Regions from separate parts of the Homo sapiens genome. Here region 2 is linked to region 1. The links come from fine-mapping of genetic effects on plasma protein levels. A gene starts in region 1. The other region holds a variant in brackets. All regions are shown on one strand. Distances are between the middles of the regions.

The links. PIP is the posterior inclusion probability: the model's chance that the variant is causal. The UK Biobank Pharma Proteomics Project read protein levels with antibody pairs (Olink). The fine-mapping took linkage between variants from a reference panel, not from the people measured, so its PIPs are less certain.
Region 2: its variant is fine-mapped to the plasma level of the SIGLEC8 protein (UK Biobank, PIP above 0.99).

Annotation. Positions count from the first base shown.
Region 1 is chr19:51,452,948-51,462,273 of GRCh38, forward strand. It overlaps SIGLEC8 (sialic acid binding Ig like lectin 8), which reads right to left and starts at 5,507. Exons shown (of 7, transcript NM_014442.3): 1 at 4,987-5,507; 2 at 4,514-4,792; 3 at 4,237-4,284; 4 at 2,471-2,740; 5 at 1,737-1,833; 6 at 1,272-1,368. The coding sequence starts at 5,440. It also overlaps the pseudogene SIGLEC25P.
Region 2 is chr19:51,402,878-51,412,203 of GRCh38, forward strand. SIGLEC10 (sialic acid binding Ig like lectin 10) reads right to left here. Exons shown (of 11, transcript NM_033130.5): 11 at 7,143-8,494. The coding sequence ends at 8,222. It also overlaps the pseudogene NIFKP6. Among named protein-coding and RNA genes, the nearest start is that of SIGLEC10-AS1, 8.2 kb to the right of the region's middle. RefSeq lists enhancers at 5,006-5,055, 6,073-6,573. The variant T/C (reference allele first, on the strand shown) is at 4,848.

The sequences.
Region 1 (9,326 bases):
GTTCCTTCTGACCCCAAAGCCTGGAGTCCTGCTGAGGCCCCCGTGTGTGAGGCCCTGAGCCGGTGCTGGATAAACTATGATGGACATGGTAGGTGTGGGCCCTGACCTCCTGCAGCTCAGTTTTTGTTTTGTTTTGTTTTGTTTTTTGGTTTTTTTTTTGAGACAGAGTCTGGCTCTGTTGCCCAGGCTGGAGTGCAGTGGTGCAATCCCAGCTCACTGCACCCTCCACTTCCTGGGCTCAAGGGATCATTCCATCTCAGCCCCCCAAGTAGCTGGGACTGCAGGAACTCACCACCATGCCTGGTTAAGTTTTGCATTTTTTTGTAGAGATGGGATCTCATTATGTTGCCCAGGCTGGTCTCAAACTCCTGGGCTCAAGCGATCCTCCTACCTTGGCCTCCCAAAGTGGCAGCTCAGTCTTTAATTGAGGGAGGTGGCAACAAATGACTGTTAAAGAAATGAATATCAGCTTGGGTGCGGTGGCTCATGCCCCTAATCCTAACACTTTGGGAGGCTGAGGCGGGCGGATCACGAGGTCAGGAGTTCGAGACCAGCTGGCCGACATGGTGAAACCCCGTCTCTACTAAAAATACAAAAATTAGCCTGGCTTGGTGGCGCGTGCCTGTAATCCTGGCTACTTGGGAGGCTGAGGCAGGAGAATTGCTTGAACCTGGGAGGCAGAGGTTGCAGTGAGCCGAGATTGCCCCACTGCACTCCAGCCTAGGTGACAGAGCAAGATTCTGCCTCGAGAAAAAAATAAAAATAAGAAATGAGTATCTACATGTAAATTATGATACAACGGGCAAAACGAGAGTAAATGAGAGAGAATTACAGGGCCTTAATTGAGACATGATACCTGACCTGGGGAAGCTCACAGGTTAGTGGCGTAAGGATGACAAGCCGGTCAAAGAAATCAGGTCCCGCCAATAGGAAAAATAATGAGAGGGGTCAGGATGGCTGGGGCCAGGGAGAAGAGATGCCAGCTATTCTTGGGGAGGAAAAATGGAGGAGAGATGGTGAATCGGGGCTATAGAGAAGAAAAGGAGGACAGAGAGGAGATAACTCCTACTCAGTGCCTGGCCTGGGAAAAATTGGGGGTAGGGACTGCCATGCTGTCAGCAAGATGGGGGAGTCCTGTAGAAGCCGGCCTGTGGGAAGGAGGAGGAGACGAGGAAGTGACTTTGGCCATACCAAAGAGAGCGATCCTGGGGGCCATCCTGTCAGAGGTGTCCAGGCTGGATGCTCGGTGTGGAGAAGCCCACATCACTCACCTGAGAGGCCGAGCCCCTGATGGCCTTTGCATCTTCCATGCCTGTATCCCCCACGCCCGCTGCTGGCCTTGCCGATTTCTTCCTGCAGGACCTCACTCTGAGTGAAGAGACCAGAGAGCCTTTCAGTGTGGTCAGATCGGGGTGCAGTGGGCAGACCAACCCCTGCCCTGTATTTCCTACTGGGGGCTTGAGGGGTGACCGAGGCGCAACGGCGGTGGTCCAGTTCCAGAGACCCCAACGGTGAAAACAGAGGCTCCTGCCTCATGGATGGTGGGGCCCGAGGTTGCTACAGATGTGGAGCCCCACAGACAAGGACGCTCGTGAAATGCTCACCGTGCACCCGTGAGCTCATTCTTGCCCCAAGCCCTGGACCCATCCAGGTCCTTCCAGCTCTGGCTTCAGGGATTCTGTTCCCGGTCTGCCCTGCCCCAGGTCTCTCTCTCCCTCCCCAGGGTCAATGCTCACATGATGAAGATGATGCAGAAGGACAGGAAGGCCAGGGCTGTGGCTCCAGCTCCCCCGACTGCTGCCAGTGTCACTTGTGATACAGGTCTTGAGGTGCCTGCAGATGGATTGGAGTTGCTTTGGGGATTTATATCACGGAGAAGTGGGTCTCTTCCCCTCCCACTGTCTGCAGGGCCCTAGACTTCCATTCCCCTCTTCTCCTTCCCAGACACAGAATACGAATGGGAGGGAGGAAAGGAGACTACTTCTGAGGCCAGTGAGGCATGAGAGTGCTGGATGCAGCTTGTCTTGCCTTTATTTACAATTTTGATATTGTGTTCTTGTGGAATCATTTTGCATTCAATTTTAGTTTTTTCAAAAGATCATGGCATTGCAATATTACTTTACTTGCTTTCTGAGTTGGGTTTTTCTTTGGCTTCTTAAATTTGGTGCCAAGGCAAGTGCCTCATGTGCCTCATCCTAGTCTAAGCACTGCAAAGCAAGGCGCTTGTCCCTCCAAACACACCTGGCCGGGCCCCAGCTCCTCCCCTCCAAGACCCACTCCTCCCCTCTCCCCACCCCGCACCCCTTTCCTGGCGGGGAGAGGACAGTGATGCTCTGGGTCGCAGGGAAGTTCCAGGCCTCACAGCTGAGCACAGACCAGAGCTGAGCTCCCCCTTGAAGCTCAGGGGCAGTGGGTGGTCCATGAGGGTGGGGCAGGTGTGTTCTCCTCCTCCAGCCCCTCCCTTACCCACCTGTGCCCTCATTCTGCAGGGAGAGGCTCAGGGAAATGTGCTGGGAGCCCTGAGCGTTCTGAGCTCGGCAGGTGAATTCCCCTTCATCCCTCACGTGCACTCGAGGCAGCTCCAGCAGCCCAGGGTTTGAGGACCGTGAGGGGCACAGGGTCAGGCTCCCCCGGGTCCAGCTCAGCCTGGCAGGGGGATTGCTGTTGACAGCACAGACCAGGCGCAGAGACTGGCCCTCAAGGACTGAAAGAGATGAGCCATTTCCCAGGGCTGTGGATGCTGCAGAGAAAGAGACAGAGGGTCATCCCATTACTGGGTATATACCCAAAGGATTATAAATCATGCTGCTATAAAGACACATGCACATGTATGTTTATTGTGGCACTATTCACAATAGCAAAGACTTGGAACCAGCCCAAATGTCCAACAATGATAGACTGGATTAAGAAAATGTGGCACATATACACCATGGAATACTATGCAGCCACAAAAAATGATGAGTTCATGTCCTTTGTAGGGACATGGATGAAGCTGGAAACCATCATTCTCAGCAAACTATTGCAAGGACAAAAAAACAAACACCGCATGTTCTCACTCATAAGTGGGAACTGAACAATGAGAACACATGGACACAGGAAGGGGAACATCACACACCGGGGACTGTTGTGGGGTGGGGGGAGGGATAGCATTAGGAGATATACCTAATGCTAAATGACAAGTTACTGGGGGCAGCACACCAACATGGCACATGTATACATATGTAACAAACCTGCACGTTGTGCACATGTATCCTAAAACTTAAAGTATAATAATAATAATAATAATAAAAGGAGACAGAGGGTCAGAGAGACAAATGGATCCAGAGAAAGAGGAAGGACACAGAAAGAGACTAGTGAGAGGGACTGACACACAGACATAGACTGAAGTGCAGGAAAACGCACACTCAGTGCTGGGAATGTAAACTTGTCCACTTTTAATTGAGAACAACTTCACTGCATCTTTCAAAATTAGAAACAACATACGACACTGGTATATTTTGCTTTTAGGAATTTATCCCATACACTTAGATATTCCTGTGGAAGTAGATACAAGACTATCCACTGCACAGTTTCTGCGGAAGGATATTTGTGCCATGATTTTCCTTAAGGGATGCCACAAAGTCAGAGTCCATCTGTGCAGTGAAATCACACACGGTCCTAGAGGACGGGGTGGACAGTCTCACTACGATGTCAAACCACCTCTGAGATCCTCCAGGTGCACAAACCAAGACTCAGGGCAGCCTGGACGGACGCTGGTCAGTTCCGTGGAGGGGGATGGGCACTGGAGGACAGACTTTGCTGTGCATTTTGAATTTCTGCCCATGTGACTGTATCATCTGGGCAGAAGTACTTAGATCGAAACTACTGGGAAAACAGAAAGATCAGACAGAGGAAGTATTCAGGAGATGCCTGACAAGAAACTTGAAAGTCTGGTCCCAAAATAAAAACGAACAAAAACCAAAAAAATTGGGAGTCTGATCCAGCTGTGTGAATGTCACCCTGTCCTTGCTGTGGGGCCAAGGAAGGGGTGTGTGGAGGAGTCTAAGGGGAGCAGGGACAGGATGGGGACAGGGGCTCAGATGGTCACGCGGGCTGGAGATGTGGGCTCTTGTGCCCTGGGCTCACGCACAGTGGCAGCTCTGTTTCCCAAAGTGATTCCAGGATGAGGAGAGACCCAGCCCCATCCTGAGCTGAAGGCCCTGCTCCCCCAACCCCAGGGAGGGGGCTCTGTCCTACCTGTGGCATCTCCTTGGAAGACAGTCATGGTCAAGTTCCAAGGAGGGTCTGGGACAGAAAGACATGAAGACCCACATTACTATAAGGACTGGGGACATTGGCCCTGTCTTCCCAGGAGCTGCAAATACAGGGAAAATGGAGTCGGCATTCTCCTGACCCCACTCCCAGCCCAGATTCTGGGACCCAGAACCCAGTGTCCAGGCTTGAACCCCATCCCCTGCCCTCAGGAACACCTCCCAACCCATGAGGGACCTGGGCATCTTGGTCCAGCACTCACAGGACACATCGAGGCGGACGGTACTGGTCGTGGTCACACCTGTCCCAGGCAAGGTCACCTGACAGGTGAGGCTGGTGCCGTGGTCCTGGGGCTTTGGGGTAAGGGTGAGCACTGAGGAGCGGGCAGTAGTGGGGCCCGGGGAGGACACGGAGGCCCCAATCCAGGAGATCATGGGGGGTGTCCCCTGCTTACAGGCCCAGGGCACAGAGCAGGTCAGGTTCCTGGAGTGGCCAGACTCTAGGGTCCCTAGGATGAGGATGTCAGGCCTATGGGTCAGGGCTGGTGAAGATGGGGACACAGGATCAGGAGGAGGTATTTCAGGTGCAGCCCTGGAGGAAGCTCAAGCTCTGGTCCAGCTCCTCCCCGGAGACCGACTTATTTCAATCCCAACCCCCTCCCAGGCCCCATCCCAGCCCTGCCTTTCAGCCCCTCATGACCTTCCCCTGTGGCCTGTGCTGGAGCCCGTGCCTTACCTGTCACAAACACAGACAGCTGCTTAGTTTTGTAATTCAACTGTGATTTGTAACTCCATTTCATGCTTCCTCTCTCTAGCCGAAAGAAATATGACCCCTTATCCCTCTTCCTGGCGTCTCTGATGCTCAGGGAGCAGTCGTTGCTCCAAATGTCCCCAAGGAGTTGGAATCGGCCCTGGGTCTCTGCCTGCACTTCTCTGTCTGGGTTGTTTGTGGCCACTGGAGCGTCTTGGTATGGTCTGTCTCCTGCCCGGAACCAGTAGCCATGAACTGGGTCAGAGTCAGTCCAGCCATCCTGGGGGTAGGAGAAGGAGCAGGGCACATGGACACACAGGCCCTCCTGCACCGTCACCAGCTCCTGCACTTGCAGCAAGTAACCATCCCCATATTGTCTGTCTCCCTCCATCCCCTTTGTCCCCCAGAGCAGGGGCAGCAGCAGCAGCAGCAGCAGCATGTCTGGGTTTGAAGGCGCCAGGGCCGCCAGGGAACGTCTGTTCCTCAGGGTTCTTCTCTCAGAAACTGAGGTCTCAAGACTTAGGGGAGGTCCCGCAGGAGGTTGGGGGTGAAGTCAGAAAAGTGACCTCCTCAGAGGAGGAACTTCACACACAGACACTGTCAGGGCCGGGTCAGTCCTGGGAGATCCACTGTCCACCACCCCATTTCCACTCCTGGGAACCCTGAGGCCAGAGAGGGTGAGAAACTCATCCAGATTCCCACCCTATGCAGGGCCCAACCTCTTTCTTGCTTCCCGGACTTGCCCTTCCATTTGGGTAACATTTTCTGCAAGGTGAAATTGGGTCCCATCTGGCCAGACCCCTGAATCACCCCCGGGGCTGTCACTGTTTGTGGAGGTCATACCAGCCAAAGGTGGAACTCAGGGCCATGAGAGACTGGGGTGCAGGTGAGGTGAGCAGGCAGCCTCTCCTCCCTCTCTCAGCAGCAACGAAGTGGGCACCTCCTCTTTACACAACGAGGTCAACAGAGCAGAGCCAGACACTGTCCTCAAGGAGTCACTGTGCAGAGGGGAGACACGGAGGCTCCTGACGTCTGAGCTCCCCAGGACGGGAGCTTCAGTGGGGGGCACAGGCAAGGTGGGGTCGTTCTCCCCTAGGTCAGGGGTTCAGTCTCAGGAGGCCTGAGCAGAGGGACACGGGGCTGTGGAGGTGAGGATTCTGCATGTTGATACACACGAAGGACGGGGGGCGGGGGGAAGCCTGGCTCGCAGGAGGCCTGGGAAACTGAGGCTGTAACTGTTGTACTGTGGGGTTTGGAAGGGAGAAATGTCAGAAGGGAAAGGGTCAATTTGAAAAGGGCACACACTTCTCCCTTTGTTGCAGCTATCTGGGTATCAGAATGGGTTTCTTCACCACCCGTATCTTACTCAGCCACACTTCCCCTGGTTACTGCACAGCAGGCGGGGTCTGTCAGCCCTGGGGCTTTGCTCCTGCAGGCTCTGCTTCCAGGGGTCCAGGTGAACAGGTGTCATGGAACGAGGACACCAGCCCTGGGGTGTGCACCTTCAGCGATGGGCAGGATTTCTTGAGAGAAGAAATGTGCACCTGAATTCAACAGATGATGATGATGATGATGATGATGATGATGATTATTATTATTATTATTATTATTATTATTTGAGACGGAGTCTCTCTCTGTCGCCAGGCTGGAGTGCAGTGGCGCGATCCCGGCTCACTGCAACCTCTGACTCCCTGGTTCAAGCGATTCTCCTGCCTCAGCCTCCCAAGTAGCTAGGATTACAGGCATACGCCACCACATCCAGCTAATTTTTGTATTTTTAGTAGAGCCGGGGTTTCACCATGTCGACCAGGATGGTCTGGATCTCCTGACCTCATGATCCACCCACCTCAGCCTCCCAAAGTGCTGGGATTACAGGTGTGAGCCACCGTGCCTGGCCTCAACAGATTATTTTAAACTGTGTGGCTGGGGGCTGGGAAGAAGTTAAGGGGGATCCTGGGAGGCGGAGCCTCCTTAGACTCAGGTCAATTTTCTTGAAACATTTTTTGGGGGGTAAATATAAGAAATATAGATAAAAACAACCCCCAAAGAAGACCTCAGTGATTTACATACAACGAGCCCCCTCCTAGAAATGGCACATTGACAAAGTCCCCAGCGCTGCTCATTTGTTTCTCCTTCTTATTGGCCACACCCCACTCCCTCCCAAACGATCCCCTAGCCTCACTTTGGTGCAAATTGCCTCAATGCTTTTCTATATAGTTTTATTATCTGAGCAGGCTGCATTTACTAAGCTTTTGCACGTTTTTCTGAAGACTTTGTATACACAGAAAATCAAACTCTACTTTCTTCCACTCAGCTTCATGGATCTGCCCGTCTCCTATCTTCCCCTCATTACTTATAACCTGGAGTAGATCATTCGGCTGTGATAATTGAGAAGGGAAGGTGCAGGGCTTGGGTGTGCATAGCCGACTCCCACCCCCATCACCAATGCTTGCATTTGTAGCTGGTATCTCATTCTGCAGCCATTTCCCCCTCCTGGGCCTCCTATCCTTGCCCAGTAGAGACAGCTGCAGTATCTCAATAGTCAGAAGGGCCGAGCCATGGCACAGGTCTTTTCCATGGTCCCCAAGTGGTAATTGAAGCCTTCAGTGAAGACTCCTGTGCAGGCCTTGCTCTCCAGCAACTTAGCCAGGCTGGAACTACAATTCCCAGAATCCCCTTCCCTGTTTGCTTCCTGGACAAAGTTCACCACAAGGGAAGGGGGAAGTTGGAGCAGCAGCCCTGAGGGGTCCGTGTAGGGGCAGGAGCTGTTGCAGCTCTCACATATTGACGCTGACCACTGGCCCATCTCATAGGGAGACACGATAGCCGCTCACTTGTTCACCTGCTGGACGGCAAGGAGGGCGTGTGGGACACCACGGGCTATGCCTTAGGGAGCAGAGAATCATTGAATCCTGACATGGGGATTGGTGACCCACATGGACACAGGTGGCCCAGAGAGACACATACAGTGACAGGCAAGGGATCCATAAAATGGCATCCCAAATAGTTCTCTCATCCTAAGACGATGTCCCAGGGTCTCTTTGACCTGACAACTAGCGCCATTCACCTTTTCAGGGGAGACCCAGCTTCCCAGGGCAAAGGGAAGGACACAGCGCATCTCAGTACCCAGAATGCCCAATGCTTGGGTGTGTGTGTGTGTGTGTGTGTGTGTGTGTGTGTGTGTGTGATTGAGAGAGAGAGAGAGACAGAGAGAGAGAGACCCTGTGTGTGAGGGAGAGGGAGTGTCTGTGTGTACCTGTGTGTTTCTGTGTATGAGCTGAGCACTGCCTCCTTGGGCAGTGTGACAGTTAATTTGATGTGTCAGCTTCACTGCCCTGGGAACCCCCATTCGTGTGTCCTTTCATAACCTCATTCCTTACCCTTCACATGCACATAGAGCATTTCTGTAATTACATTCACATAGATCTCCCTTTTCTCCCTAAAGAGGTCTGTCCCTGCATCTCGCCTCTGTGTGTCTCTGACGTCCAGAAAGCAGGTGCTGGCCTGGGGTCTGAAGCAGGTGGAATTGGCTCTGGGTCTCCTCCTGCTCTTTTCCAACTAGATTGCTTCCAGCCACTTGAGGATCCTGATGGAAATGTCCCCTTTCTGGGACAGTAGCCTTGGACAGGGCTGGAGTCAGACAGGTACCCACAGGGGTGGAAGATGGAGCAGTGCGTAGTCACAGAAACCCTCCTGCACCTGCACCAACTCTGGGGCTTCCTGCCGGGATCTCATATCCTGAGCCAGATCCCCTGTGGGGAAATGAGGGTCAGCCCAGCCCAGCCCCATGGTTCCTCTCCCTGAGGCCCATTCTCCTGCCCACAGCAGGGGCAGCAGCTATTGCAGCGTGAGCTTCTTTAGGGTGAGCCTTGGTGTCGCAGGGCCCTAGAAGGGCCCCACAGGAAGCCTGGGGGTAAGATCAGAAAAATAACTGACCACAAAAGAGGACCTTGGCCCCGACACTGCCAGAGCTGTCAGGGCTCCTGGGGAGTGGCCATTTCTACTCTCCGGATGGGTCTTCAGTGTGGGCCACACACAGCAGGGAGGCCCCGACCCACAGCTGCAGGCTCTCTGCCCACAGCCTTTCCCTCCCACAGCACTGTCCACACCAGGGAAGCAGGCACTGCCTGTCCATTACAGCTTCTAGGTGCTCGGGAGGGTCAGTCCTGCCAGAGCTGGGACTCAGGAGGGGCTGGCGGAGGAACCACGAGGCATGAGAGATGGGGAGGGGTCCCCCGAGGCGGGAGAGGTGATGTTTAATGAATGAGCACAATCACCACATCAGGAGCATCTCCTCCTTTCAGGGGGATGGAGGCAAAGGGGAG
Region 2 (9,326 bases), 50 kb before region 1:
ACATGTTCCAAGACTCTTTTACATTATGTCAGACATGCAAGCCCTGCCTCAGCTTTTTTCCCAACACTCAGCTTTTCCCCAATACCTGACCTCAGGTGATCCACCCACCTTGGCCTCCCAAAGTGCTGGGATTACGGGCGTGAGCCACCGTGCCCAGCCAGCTAATTTCTTCCTGAGTAATCTTTATTTCTTTTTAAATCACTCCTCATCTGTAGCTTTTGTGTTAGTGTCCGATTCTGATTATACCATTTCGCTGATGGATTTGATGGCTGCTTAAATGGAATATTCCAGTGTTTAAAGAGTTCTTTATGTACTTTTCCAGGTGGCATAAAATGACACTCCAAGAGTCTTTCACCAAACAGGTAGTTGTTCATTGTTTCAGCAACTATCTTGGCAACATCCTCAGACTCAAACTCCACAAATGCATAGCCTTTGCCATTTCCAGTCATTTTACTTCTGGACAGTCTGAACTGTGTCACAGTGCCAAACTGGGAGAAATATGAAAAGATCTGGGTTTCGTTAAGTAGGGTTGTTCTTGTTTTTTTTGCTGGGTTATGTGCTTGCAAACCTGCGCCACCTCCTTTTGAAACTGGACATCTTCCTGCGGGTTAAGCAGTGAGATCTCAGCCAGGCCAGAAAAAGCTGCCATGCCAAAAGCGGCCGACACTAACTCCACGCGGTGCTCCTGGAAACGTCGGGCTCCCAGCTCCCATGAGGCAGAAAACGGGCATCTATTCTTTTAACATACGTATGTATACACAGTCCAAGTGATGGAACATCAGGATCAGTGGCAGCTGGGAGGGTGGGGGAGGCAGCACCACCTGATATTTAGGAGGGAGAATGACCGGGAGTTGCCGATACGTGGAGTGAGGGATAAGTCAGAGTTGTTCCTAAGATTTTGAGTTTGGGCAATGGTGGCATGGTAAGCTAAGATCAAGGATATGAAGGGAAGAAGGGCTTTCAGGCTGGGAGCATTTAGGAGAGCATGAGAGGATAATGCATGTGTTTTGGACATGAGGTACTTGCAGGGTGTCCACATACAGATGTCTGGGAAACAATAGATGCAGGCTGGGTGTGGTGGCTCACGCCTGTCATCCTAGTCGCCTGGATAGCTGAGGCAGGAGGCCTGCTTGAGGCCAGGAATTTGAGATCAGCATCGGCAACAAAGCAAGACCCCATATCTACCAAAAAAATTTAAGGTCGGGCATGGTGGCTCATGCCTGTAGTCCCAGCACTTTGGGAGGCTGAGGTGGATGGATCACGAGGTCAGGAGTTCGAGACCATGCTGGCCAACATGGTGAAACCCTGTCTCTACTAAGAAAAAATACAAAAATTAGTCAGGGGTGGTGGTGCATGCCTGTAATCCCAGCTACCCAGGAGGCTGAGGCAGGAGAATCTCTTGAACCTGGGAGGCGGAGGTTGCAGTGAGCTGAGATCGTGCCAGTGCACTCCAGCCTGGGAAACAGAGGGAGATTCCATCTCAAAAAAAAAAAAAAAAAAGTCAAGAAGAAATAAACGTGGTGCTCTCTGGAGCTGGAGGCTGTTGATGTAGGTGTGGGAATTACCACTTGGGAGAGTTCATCTCTGCCTGTTTCAAAATCCATCGTGAGCATTGCCAGTGCTTTCTTGAAGAGCTCTCATGAGCGTGGGGCAGGATTGGTGCCATCTTCATATCACAGGCTGTCTTAGTTCATTTGTGTGGCTATAGCAGAATACCACAAACTGGGTAATATTTAAATAATAAAAAAGTACTTCTCATGGCTCTGGAGGCTGCGAAGTCCAAGATCAAGGCACCAGCAGGTTCAGTATCTGGTGAGGGCCTGATCTCTGCTTCCAAGATGTGCCTCTCTTATGGAAGGTGGAAGGGCAAAAAGGGGCCAACACTGCGTGAAGCCTCTTTTATAGTCTAAATCCCATTCATGAAAGAGGATCCCTCATGACATAATTACCTCCTAAAGGCCCTGTCTCTTCATATTATTGCATTGGGGATTAAGTTTCAACATGAATTTTGGAGGGACACAAACTTTCAATCCATGGCAGAAACTCTTTGCAGAGCCATTTTGCTGCAAAAACTTGAGGGTGGGGGTATGACTTATTTAATAAAGATGACATTTTCTGTATAAATGATACCTAAGTCCTCCTCATTAGCAAATGTCGAATAGGACATTTTCTTTTTTTATTATTATTATACTTTAAGTTCTAGGGTACATGTGCACAACGTGCAGGTTTGTTACATATGTATACATGTGCCATGTTGGTTTGCTGCATCCATTAACTCATCATTTACGTTAGGTATTTCTCCTAATGCTATCCCTCCCCCATCCCCCAACCCCACCACAGGCCCCGGTGTGTGATGTTCCCCGCCCTGTGTCCAAGTGTTCTCATTGTTCAATTCCCACCTATGAGTGAGAACATGTGGTGTTTGGTTTTCTGTCCTTGCGACAGTTTGCTCAGAATGATGGTTTCCAGGAATAGGACATTTTCTTTCTTTTTCTCTTTCTTTCTTTCTTCTTTTTCTTTTTCTTTTTTTTTTTTTTTTTTTTTTTTTTTGAGATGCAGTCTCACTCTGTTGCCCAGGCTGGAGTGCAGTGGTGCAATCTTGGCTCACTGCAACACCCACCTCCTAGGTTCAAGTGATTCTCCTGCCTCAGCCTCCCAAGTAGCTGGGATTATAGGCACCCGCCACAACATCTGGCTAATTTTTGTATTTTTAGTAGAGACAGGGTTTTGCCATGTTAGCCAGGCTGGTCTCGAACTCCTGACCTCAAGCGATCCACCCGCCTTGGCCTCCCAAAGTCTTGGGATTACAGCCGTGAGCCACTGTGCCCCGCCCCGAATAGGACTTTTTCTGTTGCCTCTTAAATGGTTTAAAGAGGGCAGCCAATAATGGGGTCAGAAAGCTTCTCTCTGCCTAGCTTCCCAAAAAAACAAAGCTGCCAGCTGGCTGTTGGACAGGTGAGAAGTCTTTGGTGAGATGCTTCATCATCCTCTCTTTCCTGAACTCTTCACGTGTACCAGGGCTCTGGATAGGAGGGGGTGCTCCAAGAAAATGTTTAGGAAAGACTAGGGTTTCCTGATAGAATGGGAGGAATCAACACACTATCTCCCCATTGGGTGTCTGTGTGGGCAGCCAACTTCTTGCTGTGCCCTGCATCTCCCTGCGCAGGGGAGAGGAGCATTAGAGAGGAAAAGCTGGGGGCAACGAGGAGCTTGGGGCAGTGTAGCCTGCACTCCACAGTCCAGCATGGTTAGGATGTGTGGGTTTCTGAGTCCTTTCTGGCTACTATAACAACAATACCATAGGCTGGATGGGTTGTAAACAATGAAAATTTATTTCTTATAGTTTTAGAGGCTGGGAAGTCCAAGATCAAGATGTCAGCAGATTCAGTGTCTGATGTGGACTCACTTCCAGGCTTACAGATGGTGCCTTCTGGTTGTGTCCTCACTTGGTAGGAGGGACAGCTCTCTGGGGTCTCTTATTAAGGGCACTAATCCCATTTATGAGGGCACCACCCTCATGACCTAATCACCTTCCAAAGGTCTTGACTTCAAATATCATTACATTGGGGGTTAGGAATTCAACCTAGACTTTGGAAGGACACATACATTTTGTCTATAGCAGGGGGTGGATGGACACGAAGGAGGGTAGCTGGGCTTCTGCAATCTAGGTGATATGTCACCCAAGAAAGCGGTAAGAGGCTGCATGGTGTCTGCCAATGGTGGAATTGGAGAAGGTATGGGAGAAGCAGGGGACACAACTCTCATATCAAGAAACAGAGGAGGCTGGGCACGGTGACTCACATCTGTTATCCCAGCACTTTGGGAGACTGAGGCAAGCAAAGCAGTTGGGGTCAGGAGTTGGAGACCAGCCTGGTGAACATAGCGAAACCCCATCTCTAGTAGTAAAAATACAAAAATTAGCTGGGTGTGGTGGCGCGCACACGTGTAGTCCCAGCTACTCGGAAGGCTGAGGCATAAGAATCGCTTGAACCCGGGAGGCAGAGTTTGCAGGGAGCCAAGATCGCACCATTGCACTCCAGCCTGGGCAGCAGAACAAGACTCTTGTCTCAAAAACGAAAACCAAACAAGCAAACAAACAAAAAAACATGATTGACTCAGTGATCAGAAAACATATAACTATTTTATATTCATACTTCCTGCAGTTAATGTCCCAGTTGACTGGTTAAAAAGAATATTTGGGGGCCAGGCGCAGTGGCTCATGCCTGTAATCCCAGCACTTTGGGAGGCCGAGGCGGGCGGATAACAAGGTCAGGAGATCAAGACCATCCTGGCTAACACAGTGAGACCCCGTCTCTACTAAAAATACAAAAAATTAGCTGGGCGCGGTGGCAGGCACCTGTAATCCCAGCTACTCGGGAGGCTGAGGCAGGAGAATGGCATGAACCCGGGAGGCGGAGCTTGCAGTGAGCCAAGATTGCACCACTGCACTCCAGCCTGGGCGACAGCGAGACTGTCTCAAAAAAAAAAAAAAAAAAAGAAAAAGAATATTTGGCAATACGGAAAGTTCCCCTTGGGTTTTCTGACTCCAAGCCTGGTGTTTTTGTTTGTTTGTTTGTTTGTTTTCATTTGCACAACATTGCCTTTCCCCAAGAGTACTGGATAACAATGCCCTCCCTCCAAGTCCCAAGTCACTATTGCAGAAGTCAGGACCTTAACACACACATTTCAAAGTTACTGACACCTAGTCAAACCTGGTGCCTTAGCAATGCAATCTTGTAATTTCCCAGGTCAAACAGATCTTCAAGGGTTGCTCTCATGGCAGAATTTGGTGGTAGAAGGAAGGAAGCAGAGTCTCAGTCTTTGTGCAGCTTGTAGGGAGTTCCCTT[T/C]TTCTCAAGCCCTTGCAGCATCCTTCCCACTCTAAGCTTAAAGGAGACTGTGTAACCAGCAGTGCTCACCCATCCTGGGCCTGAGTTTGAATCCCAGCTCTGGAGTTCAGCTGTGTGACATGCAAGACCTTGTCCCTCTCTGAAGTCCTTCTGTAAAATGAGGTGGCTGCATTGGGTGATCCCATTCCACACCATGAGTCTATAGTCCTATCATCCTGGGTATACCGACGTCTGGTGGCCAACTTTGGTCCTTGCAGCTAATTCAGGTTTTTTCTTTGTTTTTGAGACATAGTCTCGCTGTGTCACCCAGGCTAGAGTGCAGTGACGCGATCTCAGCTCACTGCAGCCTCTGCCTCCCAGGTTCAAGCGATTCTCATGCCTCAGGATCCTGAATAGCTGAGGAATACAGGCACCTGCCACCACACCTGGCTAATTTTTGTATTTTTAGTAGAGACAGGCTCTCGCTCTGTTGCTCAGACTGGTCTCGAACTCCTGAGCTCAAGTGATCCGCCTGCCTCGGCCTCACAAAGTGCTGGATTACAGGCGTGAGCCACCGTGTCCAGCTCAGTTTTTAATTTTTTATTTTTCAGTATCTGGAGTGTTTAGCACAGCCAGGAAACAAAACACACCAGAGAGGGCCACCTTGCCATGTCACCAACGATGCAATAACTACCGAAGAAAGGCCCCTTGGGTGGCTATGGAGGAGCAGAGGTCAGCAGAGGAGATGGCCAGCAAAGTGCTCTCCTTTGCTCTATTTCTTTTCTTTTGAGACGGAGTCCCACTCTATTGCCCAGGCTGGAATGCAGTGGCATGATCTCGGCTTCTGCAACCTCCATCTCCCAGGTTCAAGCAATTCTCCTGCCTCAGCCTCCCGAGGAGCTGGGATTACAGGTGCCCGCCACCACACCTGGCTAATTTTTGTATTTTTTTAGGTGAGACGGGGTTTCACCATGTTGGCCAGGCTGGTCTTGAACTCCTGACATCAGGTGATCCGCCCACCTCAGCCTCCCAAAGTGTTGGGATTACAGGCGTGAGCCACTGTGTGATTCTTAGCATGTTGTAAGTTTGTCATTGTTCCATTTCCAAAGCATTCCAACCTCCATCCCCGCATGCGTTTGCACTTCTTTAGATTTGTGGGTCTGAGAGCGCATTAGCACCCCATCCACATGCAGTCTCCTGCCCTTCCAATCCTCACCCTGAAAACCTTCCTGTAGTCACAGACCTAGTCATTTTTCCCACGGCTACTCTTGAACTCTTTATGGACCTCTGCGCTCGCTTCCTCTTCTGTGAAAACAAATGAGTTTATGTAGATTAAGATCTAGCCAACTTCTGTAAAGGATCAGATGGTAAATATTTTAGGCTTTGCAGGCTAGTGACTCAACTCTGCATGAAAATAACTGCAATGTGTAAAGGAATGAGCATGGTTGGGCACCACACTGAAATTTGAATTTCATCTCCTTCCCAGGGGCCCCAGAAGAGTCTTCTTCTTCGGACTTTTTCCCCAAGCATTTAAATGTAAAAACATTTCTAGCTTGCAGGTGGTATGAAAATAGGCAGCAGGCTGGAGGTGACTGAGGAGCCTATCTAGTCTTTTTTTTTTTTTTAAACAGAGTCTCGCTCTGTTGCACAGGCTGGAGTGCAGTGGCGCCATCTCAGCTCACTGCAACCTCGGCCTCCTGGGTTCAAGCAAATCTGCCTCAGCCTCCCGAGTAGCTGGGACTACAGTTGCGCACCACCACGCCCAGCTAATTTTTGTATTTTTAGTAGAGACGGGGTTTTACCATGTTGGCCAGGCTGGTCTCAAACTCCTGGCCTCAAGCGATCCATCAGCCTCAGCCTCCCAAAGTGCTGGGATTACAGGCGTGAGCCACTGCGCCTGGCTGTATCTAGTCATCTTTAAAGACCCTCCCATCTCTGAGAACCCATGAAACTGCGCAGTCCTCTGGACTGGAGCTGGGGTGTGTCAAAGGCAAATCTTTGCCTGCCTTCTCAGAACACCATATTCAGAGAAGGCCATTCAGGACAGATTTGTCAGGCTGTTCCGAATGCCCAGGTCTGGGATGAGATGGCCTATCCATGGAGGATTTTTATTTTTTCGAGACAGGGTCTCACTCTGTTGCTCAGGCTGGAGTGCAGTGGTGTGATCTTGGCTCACCACAGCCTCTGCTTCCTGGGTTCAAGTGATCCTCCTGCGTCTGCCTCCCAAGTAGCTGTGTTACAAGAAAGGGGTCCTGATCTAGACCCCCCAAGAGAGGGTTCTTGGATCTCACACAAGAAATAATTCAAGACGAGGCGGTAAGGTGAAAGCAAGTTTATTAAGAAAGTAAAGGAACAAAAGAATGGCTACTCCATAGACAAGAGCAGCGCCTAGAGCTGCTGGTTGCCCACTTTTATGGTTATTTCTTGCTTATTTGCTAAACAAGGGGTGGATTATTCATTCCTCCCCCTTTTGGGACATATCGGGTAACTTCCTGATGTTGCCATGGCATTTGTAAACTGTCATGGTGCTGTCAGGAGTGTAGCAGTGAGGACGACCAGAGGTCACTCTCGTGGCCAACTTGGTTTTGGTGGGATTTGGTTGGCTTCTTTACTGCAATCTGTTTTATCAGCAAAGTCTTTATGACCTGTATCTTGTACGGACCTCCTGTCTCATCCTGTGACTTAGAATGCCTCCACTGTCTGAGAATGCAGCCCAGTAGGTCTCAGCCTCATTTTATTCAGCTCCTATTCCAGATGGAGTTGCTCTGGTTTAAATGTCTGACAGCTGGGACTACAGGCACACACCACCAAGCCCAGCTATGTTTTGTATTTTTTGTAGAGATGGGGTTTCACCATGTTGCCCAGGCTGGTCTCGAACTCCTGGGCTCAAGCAATCCACCCACCTTAGCCTCCCAAAGTGCTGGGATTACAGACACCCAACCCATTTGGAGGATTTTTTTTTTGAGATGGAGTCTCGCTTTGTTGCCCAGGCTGGCGTGCAATGGTGTGATCTTGGCTCACTGCAACCTCCGTCTCCCAGGTTCAAGTGATTCTCCTGCCTCAGCTTCCCAAGTAGGTAGGATTACAGGCGCCTGCCACCATGCCCAGCTAATTTTTGTATTTTTAGTAGAGACGGGGTTTCACCAAGTTGGCCAGGCTGGTCTCGAACTCCCGACCTCAGGCGATCTGCCCACCTCAACCTCCCAAAGTGCTGGGATTACAGGCGTGAGCCACTGTGCCCTGGCCAGATGTTTTTTTAAAAGAGAGAGAAAGAGAGAGAGAGAGAGAAAGAGAGAGAGAGAGGGAGAGAAGGAAACTTTGCACTCTGTTATCTTCAACCTCTTACTCTACCTTCCTCCCTAGCCGAAGTCCCAGTCCTAAAGCCTAAGAGACCCTCATTGGAACTTGACTTCTGCATAATCCGCCTGGGTGCCCTTGGGCATCCGGGCCTCAGGCCTGGGTCTGACGCCTGGGAAGTTGAGCGTGGCATAATGGAGCTCCTCTTGGCTCTCCTGGGATTCTGGGGCTTGAGTGGATGATTTGGGTTCTGGGAAACTGGGCAACTGATACTGCTTTTTCTGGTTCTTCTTTGATTCTGGGGAGGGAGCACCTGGTGGAAGAGGGGTCCGAGGACTGTTTGGTGTGGCTTTCTGATTCCGCTTCTGAGCCTGAGGGAAGAACCACCATCCTTCATTCATTCATTCAGCAAATATTTGAGCACTTACCACGCGTCGGGCACTGATTTACAGCACAGAGTGAAACTAAGTCCCTGCCCTTGCCTTGCTGAGCTTGCATTCCATCTTGGAAGGAGGAACAGACAATAATTAGCAAAAGTACAATGACTGGTAAGTGACAAATGCCATCAAGAAATTTGAGCACCTTTAGAAGGCAGCGAAAGGGAGGGTGGGATGACTGTTTAATAGGTCATCCAGGGAATTTCAAGACCGGCCTGGCCAACATAGCGAAACCCTGTCTCTACCACAAATACAAAAATTAGCCGGGCGTGGTGACACATGCCTGTGGTCCCAGCTACTCAGGAGGCTGAGGCAGGAAAATCACTTGAACCTGAGAGGTGGAGGTTGTAGTGCGCTGAGACTGCGCCACTGCACTCCAGCCCGGACAACAGAGACAAAATCTGTTTCAAAAAAATAATTGATAGCCGGGTACGGTGGTTCACACCTGTAATCCCAGCACTTTGGGAGGCTGAGGCGGGTGGATCACCTGAGGTCAGGAGTTTGAGACCAGCCTGATCAACATGGTGAAACCCCGTCTCTACTAAAAATACAAAAATTAGGGGGGCATGGTGGTGGATGCCTGTAATCCCAGCTACTCAGGAGGCTGAGGCAGATGAATCGCTTGAACCAGGAGGTGGAGGTTGCAGTGAGCCGAGACCTTGCCACTGCACTCCAGCCTAGACAACAACAGTGAAATCCCATCTCAAAAAATAAAATAAAATAAAAATAAATAAAATAAAGAATAGCATGCATGCACGGAGAGAAA